Regions from separate parts of the Homo sapiens genome. Here region 2 is linked to region 1. A link means that fine-mapping ties the variant in region 1 to the expression of a gene that starts in the linked region. Tissue or cell type: esophagus mucosa. Region 1 holds a variant in brackets; the other region holds the start of a gene. All regions are shown on one strand. Distances are from middle to middle.

Region 1 (8,106 bases):
AGGCTTTTATTTAATATTTCTCTAACAGTGATCAGGCCATTTTTATCTTTGGCCCAGACATTGCCTTTGAGTTCCTAATTATATATCCAGCTGCTTACTTGATATTTAATTTTGAATGTCTTGAGAACACCCCAAAACCAACATGTCCAAGTATATACAATCGTCGTAAGCACAATGTGACTATATTCTCTATTTTAATGGTACCACCAGCCATCCAGTTTCAAAAGTTAGAAACCCAAGACTCATCTAATCACCACTTATCAATTTACCCCCAATATCTCTCATGTGTTCAATTTTCTACATCTCTATCAATACCAGCTTAGGCCAACCTACCATTATTTCTGGCCTGGGCTATGGCTATGGCCATGGCCTTCTAATTGGTCTCCCCATCATTCTGGACTCTCTCCCTGTGCAGTCAGTGTTGGCTTCTCAAATGGCACTGAGACCATGTCATCATGCCCCTGTTTAAAAGTTTTAGTTTAAAAAATTGTAACCTTTAACATGGCATCCAAGGCCCTGCAGGGATATGGCTCTAACCACCCCTTCAGCTTCCCCTCTTCCCTCTTTCTCCATAGTTCCTGGTGCTTCAGCCCAACTCACCTTCATCCAGCTCCTCAGGGATGCTGCCTTTGCCCTTGACATTGCCATCTACCTAGGAGGCTCTTCTACCTCCACTGCCTTCTTCTCCCAGTTGCCTTTAACCCACTTAGCTCCCGCAGGGAAGCCTTTCCACACATGTACTTTTTCTTCAGAAGATTAACTACAGTTGTAATTTCACCTTTATTTATTAGATTTTTTTAAAAATTGGTGCTGTCCCTAACCATACTGTAGGCTCCATAAAGGCAGGAATTGTGTCATTTTTCTTTGTCTCATTAAAACCGCAGAATGTAAGAAGGGATTCAAAATAATGTTGATTTAATAAGTGAATCCGTGAACTGTACAATCACAGTAAACATGCACATACCAATTTAATTAAACAATTTTAGATCATGTATTCCTTTGAGAAGAGATATTCAAATTACACCAAAAACTATAAATCTTCCCCCCAGGAAAGACATATATATGCATAGATATAAAATTTACCAGATATTTCAGGAACTTTGTATGCTGCATGAAACTCTCCTATGGATAATAGTGCATGAAACTAAGTGAAATGTCTTCAATTTTTTTTATCATTTTAAATGACTTTATAATATTCAATGGTCCAGATTTTGCTTAAGATTCTCTAGTTTTCCCTCCTTTGGTTTCAAGTTTATTATCCAACTTACTCAGTTTTCTCTTAATTTCAAAAACTATATATTTTTTACTTCAAATGTCTGTTTTTTTTTTTTCCAAATGAACATTTCAAACATTCACTCCTATTATTACCTTGATTTCTCTTTGAATATTTTCAGCATGTTTATGTTAAAATCTCTTGGATTCTTTCATTACCTTCAGTTCTGGAGATGACGGATCCCTTGTTTGTTTCATTTGCTGGCCTTCCCTCATGGTGTTTTAGTCTGAGGTTATTTTCCAAAGGGAGGATAACTGCCCTGGGTTGTGGAGGCACATGGGATGGTTCACATATGTATCTTCCTCTCCAGGAACCCCTTGGGTTTCTTATTTTCTCACCAGCGTTTATGTTTCTATGGTAGCTCAGGGTCTCTAATGTGCCAGGAGATTTAATATGGACTTAAGCCCATGCAAGGTACAGGCCTGTTCTGATTTCCCCCAGGTCTCCCTTTCCTTTAGCAGCCCAGGAGAAGGTGTGCTTCCTTGCTTCTTCCCTGCAAGGTCTGGACTCCTGTCAGTAGGAAAGCCTAGCACTACTCATCAAGACTGGGCCCAATTCTTCTGTGAATTTCTCAATTTCAGCTCCCATTTAGTGTCCTTGTGTTTTTTTGTTGTTTTTTTTTTAATTTATAACTTGCTGATTTCTTTTTTCATTACTCTTCCATTTGAAGAGATTATGCTTCATAATCCCAGTGCTTTTAGCTGTTTGAAATTAGTTCATAGCATATTAGTCCATTTCACACTGCTATAAAGAACTGCCTGAGACTGGGTAATTTATAAATATAAAAGCATTAATTGGCTCAGAGTTCTGCATGGGTTGGGGGGCCTCAGGAAACTTACAATCACGGTGGAAGGGGAAGCAGGCACATCTTACCTGGCGGCAGGCGAGAGAGAGAGAGAAAAGGAGGAACTGTCAAACGCCAATAAAACATTGGATCTCATGAGAACTCACTATCACAAGAACAGCGTGGGGGAAACCACCTCCATGATCCACTCACCCACCACCAGGTCCCTCCCTTGACATGTGGGGATTATGGAGATTAAAATTGGAGATGAGATATGGGTGGGGACATAAAGCCAAACCATATCACATAGATTCCCCTTTCAGCTCAGTCTACTGATTTCTAGGAAGATTAGATTTTATAGATATGCCATAACTTATCTCAGACATTTAACTTGTTTCCCCCAGCTTTTGCTACTAAAAACAACACTTAGAGGAACATCCTTTAGCTAAATCCTTAGACATATCTTTAATCATTGTTTTAGGAAAAACCCCTAGAAGACGAATTGTTGGATCCAAAAGCACATTTGTACGGCCATCGGTATTTGTCACTTACCAACTTGTCTTCCTTTTCATGCAACTCAGGAGTTGCACAGATGCCTATGGTTCCCCTTGCCCTTGTGTCATCTCCTTTTGGCCCCATTAAAACATGCACCAGAGGATCACCTGAGGTCAGGAGTTTGAGACCAGCCTGGCCAACGTGACGAAACCCTGTCTTCACTAAAATACAAAAATTAGCCGGGCTTGGTGGCATGCACCTGTAATCCCAGCTGCTCAGGAGGCTGAGACAGGAGAATCGCTTGAATCCAGAAGGTGGAGGTTGCAGTGAGCAGAGATCACGCCACAGTACTCCAGCCTGGGTGACAGAGCAAGACTCCAGCTCAAAAATAAATAAATAAATAATTAAAAAAAAATGCACCAGGGACTGAAACTGGGGTATGAACAGCACCCAGACCCTGACCAAGCCATAAAAGTGTTTGTAAAGAAGCCACCCGACAAGGCTTAGAGGTGCTACCTAGGCAACCAGAAAACAGGGACCTCTGCCAAATCCACTCTCCCCTCCACAGGCCTCTCTCCAAGCTGTTCTCCTAGTCATTTTCATCACAATTTTGGCAGCTTCTACTTCTTATCAGAAATTTAAGAGCAGATAATTAAATTCAAGTCCCACATTACTAAGCTTTGTTATTTTTGCAAAGTACACATTGTACATTCAGTGGCACACTGCAAAGCATTATCATGAATTATTTAAATGACACCATCCTCGTCACAATAAATGAGCAAAACACATTTTTTCACTGTCTCCTTACATGTTGTTATTTCTCTTCACAGATTTCTTACTTTGCAACATTAACTAAAATGTGATGAGCCCTGCAATGTCATTACTACAAACTACCCTACCTTAGTTCTGCTGATCATGTATTTTTTTTTAATGTGACGGAAGCATTTTTCTTTCTTCTTAAGATTCATTATACTCAAACGTGTCCTTGTAGCAGCATAGAATAGGAACAAATATAAAACATGTATAACCAAGGTTTACTTTTGGAAGTAATTCATATTCAATTCTCCTTTGCTCTGCTGGGATGGAACAATAGATGCTGTGAGGTGGGAAGGTAGTAGACATGAAAATCTAAAGATACTGAGACCCTTCTTTGGAAAGGAGGCCGGAAACATCTCTGTTTTGCCTCTTATTTTATTACTGTATTTTATAATTCCAAGTAAATGAGAGTAAAACTTATCTCAAAGGCTAGCAAAATGATCCTGAAGTCTAACTCAGGCAATGAGGACAGTAATTCATTAGA[A/G]ATTAACTGTTCTTGGCATTGTCACAGTCTTGTTCAGCTTGAATGTTAATCTCTAAGGAAATGACAGTTATTACCTGTGCTTTATTGTTGATACTGACAAGATCCTCAAGTGACACTTCTGTCTGTGGATACTACATGCTACCAGTACAGGCCCGGCTCCATTCTTTGCCCCCGTTTACACACACACACACACACACACACACACACACACACACACACTCTCATTCTCTCTCTCTGTCTCTTTCCTCACAACGGCCTGCCAACAGGTTCATTTTACGCCACTCTGTTTTGTCTCAGGATGTGACAAGGCTACATGGACAGGGATCAAAAAAACAGCAGTGACTTAAGGCCAGGGGAGGAAGAACACAGAAAATAAATCGTTAAAACTTGGAACTGAAGCAAACTTAAAAAAAAAATTTTAGCCACTTAAAAAAAACTTTTCATTTTGCAATAATTTTTAACTTACAGAAAAGTTGCAAGAATAGTACAAATAATGTCTTTATCCCTTTCACCTGGACTTCCTCATTTAGTTAACATTTTAATAGTTATGGCCAGGCGCAGTGGCTCAAGCCTGTAATCCCAGCACTTTGGGAGGCCAAGGCAGGCGGATCGCTTGAGCTTAAGAGTTCAAAACCAACCTGGGCAACATAGTGAAACCACATCTCCATTAAAAATACAAAAAAATTAGCCGGGTATGGTGGTGCATGCCTGGAGTCCCCAGCAATTTGGGAGGCTGAGGTGGGAGGATTGCTTGAGGCCGGGAGGCAGAGGTTGCAGTGAACTGAGATTGCGCCACTGCCCTCCAGCCTGGGTGACAGAGCCAGGCCCTGTCTCAAAAAAAAAAAAAAAAATAGTTAACAGTTTAATAGCTAACATTTTACCATTTTTGCCTTATTATTTAGAATCACTTGAGAGTAAATTACGAACATGATGCCCATTACCTTAAGTGTGTCAATGTGTGTTTCCTAAAACACAAGGACACACTGCTGAAAAATCAAAGTACATCCAGCATTACCAGGAAATCAGCACTGATACAATACTACATCCACCCTGCAGACTCCATTCCCATATTCCTGATTGCTCCAGCAATGTCCTTTATAATCACCCTTTTCCATTTGGTCCAGAATCCAGCCCAGGGTTATCTACTGTATTTAGTTTCCATGTCTCTAGATCTGCCTTCAATGTGGAGCAAATGCTCAGGTTTTCCTTGTCTCTTATGACTTGATACTTTTGAAGAGCACAGGCCTGCTGCTTTGTTGAATGACCCTCGATTTCTGGTTGGGTGATGGTTCCTCAAGATTACGCTCAGGTTATGCCTTCTTGGCAGGAATAGCGCGGAAATGATGCTGTGTTCTCAGTGGATCGCGTCGGGGGGCATAGCATATCAATTTGTCCCATAGCTGGAGATTACATCCCTTGGTTAAGATAGCTAATTAAGTATTTTGTACTTAATTTATATTTAATAAGCAATTTAAAAGTATTTGATTAATTTTAAAGTAATCAAAAACTATTCTATGTAAATATCCTGTTTCTTATCAAGCTTTCACCCACTACTTTTAGCATTCATTAATCTTTTTTTTTTTTTTTTTTGAGATGGAGTTTTGCTCGTCACCCAGGCTGGAGTACAGTGGCGCGATCTCGGCTCACTGCAACCTCCACCTCCCATGTTCAAGCGATTCTCCTGCCTCAGCCTCCTGAGTAGCTGGGATTACAAGCGTACACCACCATGCCCGGCTAACTTTTGTATTTTTAGTAGAGACAGGTTTCACCACATTGGCCAGGCTGGTTTCAAACTCCTGACCTCAGGTGATCCACCCACCTCGGCCTCCCAAAGTGCTGGGATTACAGGCGTGAGCCACTCATTGATGATTCTTACCTGAAGCAATTATTACTATGATGGCCTCCAAGTGGTGATTTCCTGATTTCTTAATTCCTTCTGCTTGTACTAATTGGTGTTCTGTTGTGAGGTAGTTTTCCTTCTCCCCTATTTATTTATTCATTCATGGGTATATTTATATCAGTATGGACTCAGGAACGCCTGTTTTATTCAATAGGCTATATTACATTAATTATATACTTTGATACTCAAATTATTCCATATTTTGCCAGTGGGAGTGACTTTATTAATAAATTAGCTTCTGTATTCTTTTGGTATGTCCATGATTCTTTAAGTACTTCCTTATTTTCTGGTGTCAAAATGTTCCAGACCCATCTTATACTTTCCTTGTCCCTGCCCTGGTATCAGTATACCATTTCTCCAGTAAGCTCTGGTTTGTTTTATTAGGAAACGGAATTGAGAAACCAAGATCTGAGTTTATGGTGTGTTCATTGCTTCTGGGATGTTATTGCTTTTAGGTGCTCTAACATGAAATATATGTACACACGTGTACATATACAGCCATCTGTCTCTGTGTATCATTCATTTATATACATATTTTAAAACATGAGATTTTAGTGATATCTCCAATTTCTCTCCAACTGCATATAGATTAGTCTAGCTTTCCTCCTTTACATACTTGTAGATCCTTTTTCCAAAAGTGAGAAACCTAGCTCCCATAATCTTCATATTTTTCCCAACCCCCTGTAAACAACCAATCTTCCAGCCATTCAGAAGCAATCGTCTCCTTCTCCCCTTCTGCACACGGCTATTGCCCCACTGAGTCTCTCCGCACTCTTCCTGTGGCCACGCCAGGCTGAGCAAACCCTGTTACTGACCCGTAACAGCACACTAGTCTCTTCTATACCTGCTACACATTCAGGAGAAATGACTGGCATTTCAGAATGTGGCCAGCTTTGTGTCAAAAGAAGGATTAAATAAATCGCATAATATAGTGTGTTAGGTCCAGTGGGGAAGAGAATTTGGTCTTATAATACAGGCAGCCACTTAAAAGGAAAAATAAGTTTCTTCTAGAAGCACTGGTCTCAAAAAAAAAAAAAAACAACAATTAAAAAAACCCAAAAACGTCCACACACAAGAAAATCTCAGTGAATATATCTTTGCTTTGAATTTCAACTCCATTAAAAATCTTGAGTTGTTTTAAATTGATAGTGAAAAGGTTTTATAGTCTTTTTCTCTTGAAAATCACATCAAACTAGGTTTACTCCAAGACTGTTTTATTCCTGTGAATTTTAGATATTCTTGTTCTTTGTCTTCCTTTTTAGAATGGATAATTCAAAGTGAATACTTTTTTTTTTTTTTTTGAGACAGAGTCTTACTCTGTTGCCCAGGCTGGAGTGCAGTAGCACGGTCTCGGCTCACTGCAACCTCAGTCTCCTGGGTTCAAGTGATTCTCCTGCCTTGGCCTTCCAAGTAGCTGGGATTACAGGCACGCACCACCATACTCAGCTAATGTTTTGTATTTTTAGTAGAGACAGAGTTTTGCCATGTTGGCTAGGCTGGTCTTGAACCCCTAACCTCAAGTGATCCACCCACCTTGGCCTCCCAAAGTGCCAGGATTACAAGCATGAGCCACGGCACCTGGCCTGAAAATTTTTTAAATCTAGATTTATGTTTTGTTAGGATTTATTTTTTATAGGTAGAACATTGGAGGAAGATCAATGACCAATATTTATGCTGACTTTTTAGTAAATTTTAGACATTAGTGTTCTAAACTAAATTTCTCTTTCTTTTTAGGTTTGTCCAAGACTGGTTTTCAGAAAGGATGCAAGTGGCCAAAGTGGACTTCTCTACAGTGTTACCACGCTTCATTTCTCTATATATCTTTTCCTTTTTGAGTCCGAAAGATTTGTGTGCCGCTGCCCAAGTCAGCTGGCCCTGGAAGTTTTTAACTGAACAGGTTTACTATTTGCCACTTCCTAGTAATAGGGCACAAGTACAGCTGTAATCTGTAATGAGGCTACTGGGGTAGCTCCCGTCCCTGAAGACAATAGCTGAGGGTACCTGATCCATCATTAACTTACCCTTGAGAGAAAAAATGGGGAAAAGTGAAATACAATAATGTATTTCTATAAATAAGGAATATAGACTAGTCCAATAATTCCTGTTACTTAAAAAATCTTTAAATACTCAGTATAATTGTTTAGAAAACATTTTATCTTGGTTAAAGAAGTTCCTTTTTGAGACGGAGTCTCGCTCTGTTGCCCAGGCTGGAGTGCAGTGGCGTGATCTCAGCTCACTACAACCTCCTCCGCCTCCTGGGTTCAAGTGACTCTCCCACCTCAGCCTCCTGAGTAGCTGGGATTACAGGCGCGTGCCACCACGCCCAGCTAATTTTTGTATTTTTAGTAGAGACG
Region 2 (8,106 bases), 150 kb after region 1:
TCTTCAGAGTCTTTCCCAATATGGCCTCTTTCTAATTTTATATTCTGTTATCCCGAAAACACTAGTCCTTGAAAAGGCTCCTACACTTTCCACTTCTGATCACTTTTCTCTGCCTGGAAGCCCTCATAATTCCATTCCCCTCACTCCACCCTAATTTAAAGTCCATCTGAATTAAGTCAAAAAGCCTTTCTTGGTCATACCTCCTTAGCATTTCATAACACTTGGCACCTCTCCTATGGCATACATTATACCTTATGTTATACATGAGCACTCCTATAATTGACAAGATCCTCAAGAGCTTCTTACTCCTCTTCTGATGCCTGCAATGCCTAGCCCAGTGTTAAGTAGAGAACTAAGCATTAGATATGAGCTGCCCCAAATGTTTCCCACTTAGAAAGCAATGGAGGACTGTGTTTTCAGACAATCCCAAACTCCCTTAAGGGAATTAAGCACATATTCTCCTTTTGTCTCATATTTCTATGTCTTAGACCAATTTTTAAGTAAATTGCCTTCAAGATATCTAGACTGCTATTTAGTATACATAACTGTAAGAGTTCTGCTCCAGGGAGTTCCAACTTGTAACTGAACCCTGAATATTTAAGCTCTCTCTTTATGCCAAAAGACAATGGAAATTTATTTTTTGAATGTTAATAAAATTGAGCAAAACATAAAAATAACTTGCACTGAATTAAACATGTTTGAAGTAAAGATTCATTAATGCTAATGTGTCTGTCCTAAAAATTACATTTCAAGTTCTAAAGTCTTTGTGTACCCATTAAAAAGATTGAAAGTTTTATTTCAACTCTTTCTCACCTCAAAGACAAACTAAAATAGAACAGAGAAGGCTTTTCCTTAATTTTATTTAGATCCTAACTTGAAGGTATACTTTGTTATTTCTTCAAAAGGAGCAAAAAGAGTATGATTAATGAGCATGTTCTGACCAGATCTCTAAGTCCTACTCCAAAGCTGTAACAGGAGAGTACCATAGACCACACTACCAGCACCCTTCGTTAGCAGACCACAGGCTTTGTTTTGTATCTCCCTGAGCTAAGAATGGCTTTACATTTTTGTGTTTTGTAAACACAAGAAGAAGAATATGCAACAGAGAGCATATGTGGCCAGCAAAGCCCAAAATATTTACTATTTGTCCCTTTTCAACAGGATGAATTTGGGACTCCTCGTTGCCCTTCACTGGCACGTAAGACATCCCACCTTTAAAAAAGCAATGTAAAACACAAGACCATTTAAAAAGATCGAACTCGTTCAACTTAGTCATAGTTAATGCAGACTTAACTTCTAAAACAGAGACCTGTGTGTGGACATTTTTATTCTTCACAGAATTTTTGTTGGAAGAAACTTGCCTTCATTCTGTGGATGAACATACTTATGCTTGAAAATGGAAAGTGCCTGACCCAAAGTCACACTGCTGGTTAACAGCAGAGTAGGGTCAAGGACCCAGCCTTCAAAACCCTGGTCCAATGCTTTGCAGTCCACTACATACACCTATACATGTGGCTTTAAATTTTGGAGATGTGGATAACTAGCTTGGATCAATATAAAAGATGAAAGCTTAAAACCTGTTCCTAACATACTGTTTAGACAGACTCCTACTAGCAGCTATGAATCATTAAACAGAGTAGCATTAATGCTCACCACATACATTAGATAAGAACTTCTAGGAAGTCCTCTGTTTCAAAAGCAGATATGATAAAAAAAGGCTTTAAACCTACAGGGTTTGCTCCTCCAGGGCTTCAGATTAGGGCAAATAACGCACTTCTGCCTACCAGCTGTTCAATACTCATCTCCCAACCCAAATCCACAAGTTCCACAAATGCTTTCGAATGCCTGTTGAAAAACATTGTTCAGTCTCATCACATACACACGTTCTACAGATAATTACAACTTCTTGTATGCCTACTTGTAAAACTACTAAGTAGTTCACATTTTAAAAAATTTCCCTAAGAATTTTGCTTCCTTTAAAAAAACTGCTTCTTCGATTCCTAAATCTATAGAACTCACTTTATCACGTCTTCTCGGTTAATCCAAGAATTAAAAAAACCATTTTGCCCATACTGATAACTTTACTACTCTGCAGGATCCGAAAAGCTCTCTATATGCCAGGTTCTAGGATTCACACACATTAACAACCTAAGATCCTTCAAGTGAGATAGCTCTTGCAGTACAGAGCACAGATTCTCAGGGTCGTGGGGGATACCGGCTGAGGCTCTTCAGACCCCCACCACAGGAGTTCCGTCCTCTAAGGGCAACCCCCTCCCCCTTGGCCGCGGCGCGAGTCCAGGCCTCCCGGGCACCTGCGGCCCCTGCCCGCTGCGGGGACCCCCCGAGGAACCAGCCCCCCGCCGGGCCCCAAGGAATCGGCGCCCACTCCCACTCCTGGAGGCCAGTGACTGCAGGCCTAAGCCGCCCGCCGGCCCCGGGACGCGACGTTACCTGTAGGACCACGTCGTTCGGCAGCTGCGCGGCCCGGAACAGCTCCAGCACCCGCCCGTTGACCACCACCTTCTTGGTGCTCTCAATGTCGCAGTAGGAGAAGAGATCTGAATAGTATTTCTGCTCCGCATCGCTCAGCGTTAAGCCTTCCATCTTCGCCTCCGGCTCACGGCCGCCCCGCCCCGCATGCACTACTCGGGGCCCGGCCCCAGGAACCTGGGCCGGCAGGGGCTGCGCGTGGCCCGGCCTCCTGCTAGCTTCCCGAAAACGCCGGCCCCGGCCTCACACGCGCCAGGTGCGCCCGAGCAACAGGGCCCGGAGGTCGCGAGGAGGGGGCCCGGCTGCGCTCGCCGCGCCGCTGCCTGCGAGGCCCGGCGCGCGGCTGCGGCTGCGGCTGCGACTACGGCTCCGGCTCCGGCTCCGGCTCCGGCCGCGGGGAGGGTGCAGAGAAAGAGGCGGGGGCCGCGGAGGCGCGAGGCACTGGCGGACTCCGCCCCCGCCGCGGGTTCGAGTCTCCCCGGCTCCCTGCCGATTCCCCCAGACTTCCCGCCTCGGCTTCCCCTTCCGTCCACGCCTCCGGAGCGGCAGCGCTTCCCGGAAAGTTGTGGGGCTTCGAACCTAAAGTTTCGGGGGATCTGGGCTGAGCGTGGCCGCCGCTCCGCCTCCCTCCGCCGCCATTTACAGTGCCCCGGCCCGGCCCCGACGCGCCCGCACCAACAGTGACAGCGGCGGCCGCGCTCCAGACCCGGATGTGAGGCCGGGAGGAGAGAGCGCGAGAGGGAGAGAGAAACACCCACCGGGCTGGCTTGGCCGCTCCCGGGAGAGGGAGGAGGCCGCAGCGCCCCCTGGTGGCCGGCGCCCGGCGGCGGGATGACCGAGCCGCCCTCTGCGCGGAGATCTCAGCAGCAAGACCCCCGGAAAGGGGGGTGCAGTGGGAAACAGCCGGCAGCTCATTAAGACCGAGATAACTAAGATCCGGGTTGCAGTTTTTATGTTTCGCAGTTTCTGGTCCTAAGCGTCTGAATAATTGGATTGAAAGGGGAGCCTTGTTCAGGTTATTATCATTCTATCTGTACCTTTTCGGTACAGATGAAGATAAATGCAGTATTTCCATCTGTTCTGAAGGGCTATGAACATCCGGGCTATGAACATCCTGGCTATCCGGGAAGCCTCCACGTAGACACCAACATTGAGGCTTCATCTCACTCGTGCTTCAAGCCATGTTTACCTGAGAAACAAAATGTGCTGAATAGAGGGGAAAACTGGCAAAGTTGTCCTCTTTGTTCACCAGGTCATTCCGGTCACTGGGAACTTAATACTCTACATTTATACCTTCAACTCTATCAACTCATGTAGGCCCGGGGCTGCCCACAGGGGCTGCCTTCCGTATTTTCTCCTTTATGAAAATCATGGAGTGGCGCTCTTTTAATCTGCACCTGTCCCAGAGAGGGGATTCTTCAGCTATTTCAAGTAGAATATCTTAAGAATTTATACTTAGCAAATATAAAATACTTCAAAGACGGGAGCTAAGGCAGAATTACCCAGAGTTCTGGTTTTTATTTTGTCTTCTACAAGTTGTTTCCCAGAGTGCGGATCCTATAAATGACACATATGAGGAAATTATTACAGGTTCCCAGTCATTTATCTGTAATTGCAAAATTCAAAGCGCACTGAAAACCCAAAGACTTTTTTTTGTAACCCTTTGGAAGTAAAACCTGCCCTGCCTCATTTGGAGGCAAAATCTAAACTAAGCTTGCATGAAGCTATTTCTAGCCTTTATGGATCCCACTTAGTGTCAATATTTACTCATTTCACTCCAGGTCTTTGTAGAATGTTAATATGTACACAGTCACAGGCATTCTATTATCTTTCTATTTTTTAAGAAAGATAAGGGATTTTAGACCTGTCAATGTCTTCTGACTTGACTAGTAGTATTTGATAAAGGTAAGTATATACTATCCATTAAGCTTATTTCCCATCTCTAAGACTTTCAGTTTGCTACAGCAGCCCCTCATGTGTCCTTTCAGGGCACCTGCAGCAAGTGATCAGACCCCCCCCAGACAGCTGCCTTCCAAAGGTGTAAACAGAAAGAGCACAATGGGGTAGGGATTGGCTCACAATTGTCTTTGCATCTTTTTCTCTGCCACCTCTCCTAGGCCTTGCAGCTCTTGTCGGCCCCAGGGCCTTTGTTCCTGCCATCTAAAATAGTCCTTCCACAAACCATGGCATGGCGTATTCTCTCATATGGTTTCAGGTCCCTGCTCATATGTCACCTCCTCAGAGCAGCCTTCCTGCAACAGCTGCTGTAAAATAATCCCACCATGCACTATCCCCTTATCTGAATTCCTTTTTTTTCTCTTTTGAGACAGAGTCTCCCACTGTCACCCAGGCTGGAGTGCAGTGGCATAATCTTGGCTCACTGTAGCTTCGACCTCCCAGGCTCAGGTGATTCTCCCACCTCAGCCTCCCAGGTAGCTGGGACCACAGGCCCAGGCCACCATGCCCACCTAAATTTTGTGTATGTGGCTTTTGTAGAGACAGAGTTTTGCCATGTTACCCAGGCTGGTCTCAAACTCTTGGGCTCACCCACCTCAGCCTCCCAAAGCGCTGGGATTACAGGCATGAGCCACTGCACCCAACCTGAATTCTTTTTCTTTATAACACTTTTCACTATCTGACATTACATATATAGCTGTTACATTTTTAACGGCTAATTATTGAATAATTACTAAGTTTCAGGCATTGTTCTAAAGCTTTACACTAATAACCACATTATTCACAACAACCCTATTAAGTGGTACTACTAGGTTTTTTTTTTTTTTTGACAGATTAGGAAACTGAGGCAAAATGGGTTAAGTATTGTGTAAGTCATGTTGCTATTAAATACCCGGATCTGGGATTCAAACTCCAGGCTGTCTCAACTCTAAAAATCACTACCCTATCTTGCCTGTCTAATTTCTTTGTTAAGTTTGTTATTAAGAAAATATTTCTTCACCAGGCATGGTGGCTTATGCCTGTAATCCCAGCACTTTGGGAGGCTGAGGTGGGTGGATTGCTTGAGCTAAGGAGTTCAAGACCAGGCTGGGTAACACGGTGAAACACCATCTCCACCAAAAATACAAAAATAGCCAGGCATGATGGTGTGCACCTGTGGTCCCAACTACTCGGGAGGCTGAGGTGGGAGGATCACTGGAGCCCAGGAGATAGAGGCTGCAGCGAGCAGTGATTGTGCCACTGCACTCCAACCTGGGAGACAGGACGAGACTCTGTATCAAAAAAAAAAAAAAAAAGAAGAAGAAGAAGAAAGAGAGAGAGAAAGAAAGCAAGCAAGCAAGAAAAGAAGGAAAATATTTCTTCATTGCCACAGTGCCAAAGCCCAGTATGTGACACATAATGTGTATCAATAATAATTTGTTGAATGAATGAAAGCATCAATTTTGACATTGATGTGATAAGCCATTCAATACAGTAAGTCCTCAATTAATGTTATTGTGGATAGGTCCGTGGAAACTAATTTTAAGCAAAACAAGGTATTCTAACCAAGTAGTTTAGCTTCAAAAGAAAACTTTTTTCTTTTCTCCTTTCTTGCCAGTCTCAAGCTGTAACCTTGAAACAAACTGTAGAAACCTTTTCTCTTTAGTCTTAAAATATAGCCTTGAAACATACTTTGAAACTCCACTCCCTTCTATTTCCCACAATGTACTCCCTTACCCAATGCACATTTATCTAACTGTATGCTTCTTAAAAATTCCAGGGGCTAATTTAAAATGAACTAGGCACAAAGGCCCAGCTGCAGAATTGTCCCCCACTTAAAGATTGCCTCAAGATAGATAATCTGCAGCCTGGCCACAGGCGAGATGACGCCAGCCTGCATTTTAGATGGACCATAACTCAAGATAGGCGTTGAAGCAAGACACACAGCCCGGGCTCCCGGCACAACTCTTGCATGTTTCCCATATCAAGGTTCCCTTTTTGAAACCTCTGCCTTCAGCCCAGACTTTTGAAGCAGTTTCCAGAGGTGTAAGCTGGCTGTTTCCCCACTGCTAGCTTTGAAAAATAAAGTCACTTTCCTTTCACCCCTTGTTATTGGGTTTGCAAAGGGCAAACAGCCAAGGCTGCACTTGGTTACGGTATCACGAAACCAATTTTATCATAGGCTAATTGATAATTTGCTACAAACAAGAGTTAAGTTGCTGTGACATATTTCTGGTCACAGAATCACCAAATTTCTAAATCGAGACCAAAACACTTCTAATATTAAACATTTAAGTAAAGGTAAGCTACACATGCAACTAAAATGATTAACTAAAAAAAAAATAACTACTTACCCTATTTTTGGTATATTGGTGAGTTACCACGGTTGTCCTGGTGGTGGGTTAAATCAAGGAATAAATGTCTGCAAAGTGAAGTTCAAAATCATCACAAACATGGTGGCTTGCTGAGCTCTCTGGCACCACCTTGTTTACTGTTTTGCATCTGTATGATCATCATATGCTTTACACATTTTTATTTTTCAGTCACTTATATTCATTCATTTTCCTACCTACTTATTCCATTTCGGGGTTGTGGGTAGCAAGAGCCTATCCCAGTGGCTCATGGGACAGGTAGAACCCAGCCCCTGTCTAGGATGTGATTGCATCACAGGGTATACACACACACACACACACACACACACACACACACACACACACATCCACACTCACTCAGACTGGGACCATTTAGACACCCTGACTTATCTAATGTGCACATCTTTGGGATGTGGAGGGACACCTGAGGATTCAGAGAAAACCCACACAGACATAGGGAGAGCATGCAGACTTCACACAGACAGTGGTGCCTACGGGGAATGCATTTATTTTTTCTCATCAATGTTATAATGAAACAATGTTGCTATTGAAGGACCTGTTACCTTCTAATCTCCTCCTAGTTTTGCACCCTTAACCTTAGAAACCTCCAGCACCACTCCTCTTTAGCAACCCAAAGTAATTATAGGATTGCTTCACTTCCAAGTTCTGGAACTCTGAAACTTCTTTCTCAGTCCATAACATGCTGTCCTTTCACTCTCACGTTCCAGTCCTCAAATAAGCATGCACCCTAGGCTGGGCGCGATGGCTCACACCTGTAGTCTCAACGTTTCCGGAGGCTGAGGCAGGTGGGTCACCTGAGGTCAAAAGTTCGAGACCAGCCTGGCCAACATGGCGAAACCCTACCTCTACTAAAATTACAAAAAAAAATTTAGCTGGGCATGGTGGTGTGCGCCTGTAATCCCCACTATTCAGGAGGCTGAGGCAGGAGATTCGCTTGAACCCGGGAGGCAGAGGTTGCAGCAAGCTAAGATCACACCACTGTGCTCCAGCCTGGGTGACAAGGCGAGACTCCGTCTCAAAAAAAAAAAAAAGAACAAACAAACAAAAAATACTTGCTCCTTGATATGGTTTGGCTGTGTTCCCACCCAAAATCTCATCTTGAATTGTAATTTCCATAATTCCCATGTGTTGTGGGAGGAACCCATTGGGAGGTAACAGAACCATGGGGGCGGTTACCCCCATGCTGTCCTCCTGTTAATGAATGAGTTCTCAGCAGATCTGTTGGTTTCATAAGGGGATTTTCCCCTTTTGCTCAGCACTTCTCCTTACTGCCACCATGTGAAGAAGG

Evidence for each region. PIP is the estimated chance that this variant, and not a neighbour inherited with it, causes the effect.
Region 2: REPS1 starts here. The variant in region 1 is fine-mapped to the expression of REPS1 in esophagus mucosa (GTEx, PIP above 0.99).

Annotation. Positions count from the first base shown.
Region 1 is chr6:138,830,866-138,838,971 of GRCh38, forward strand. It overlaps ECT2L (epithelial cell transforming 2 like), which reads left to right. Exons shown (of 22, transcript NM_001077706.3): 5 at 7,487-7,649. Among named protein-coding and RNA genes, the nearest start is that of ECT2L, 39 kb to the left of the region's middle. The variant A/G (reference allele first, on the strand shown) is at 3,853.
Region 2 is chr6:138,985,079-138,993,184 of GRCh38, forward strand. REPS1 (RALBP1 associated Eps domain containing 1) reads right to left here and starts at 3,175. Exons shown (of 20, transcript NM_001286611.2): 1 at 2,452-3,175. The coding sequence starts at 2,604. RefSeq lists silencers at 2,677-2,976, 3,167-3,406.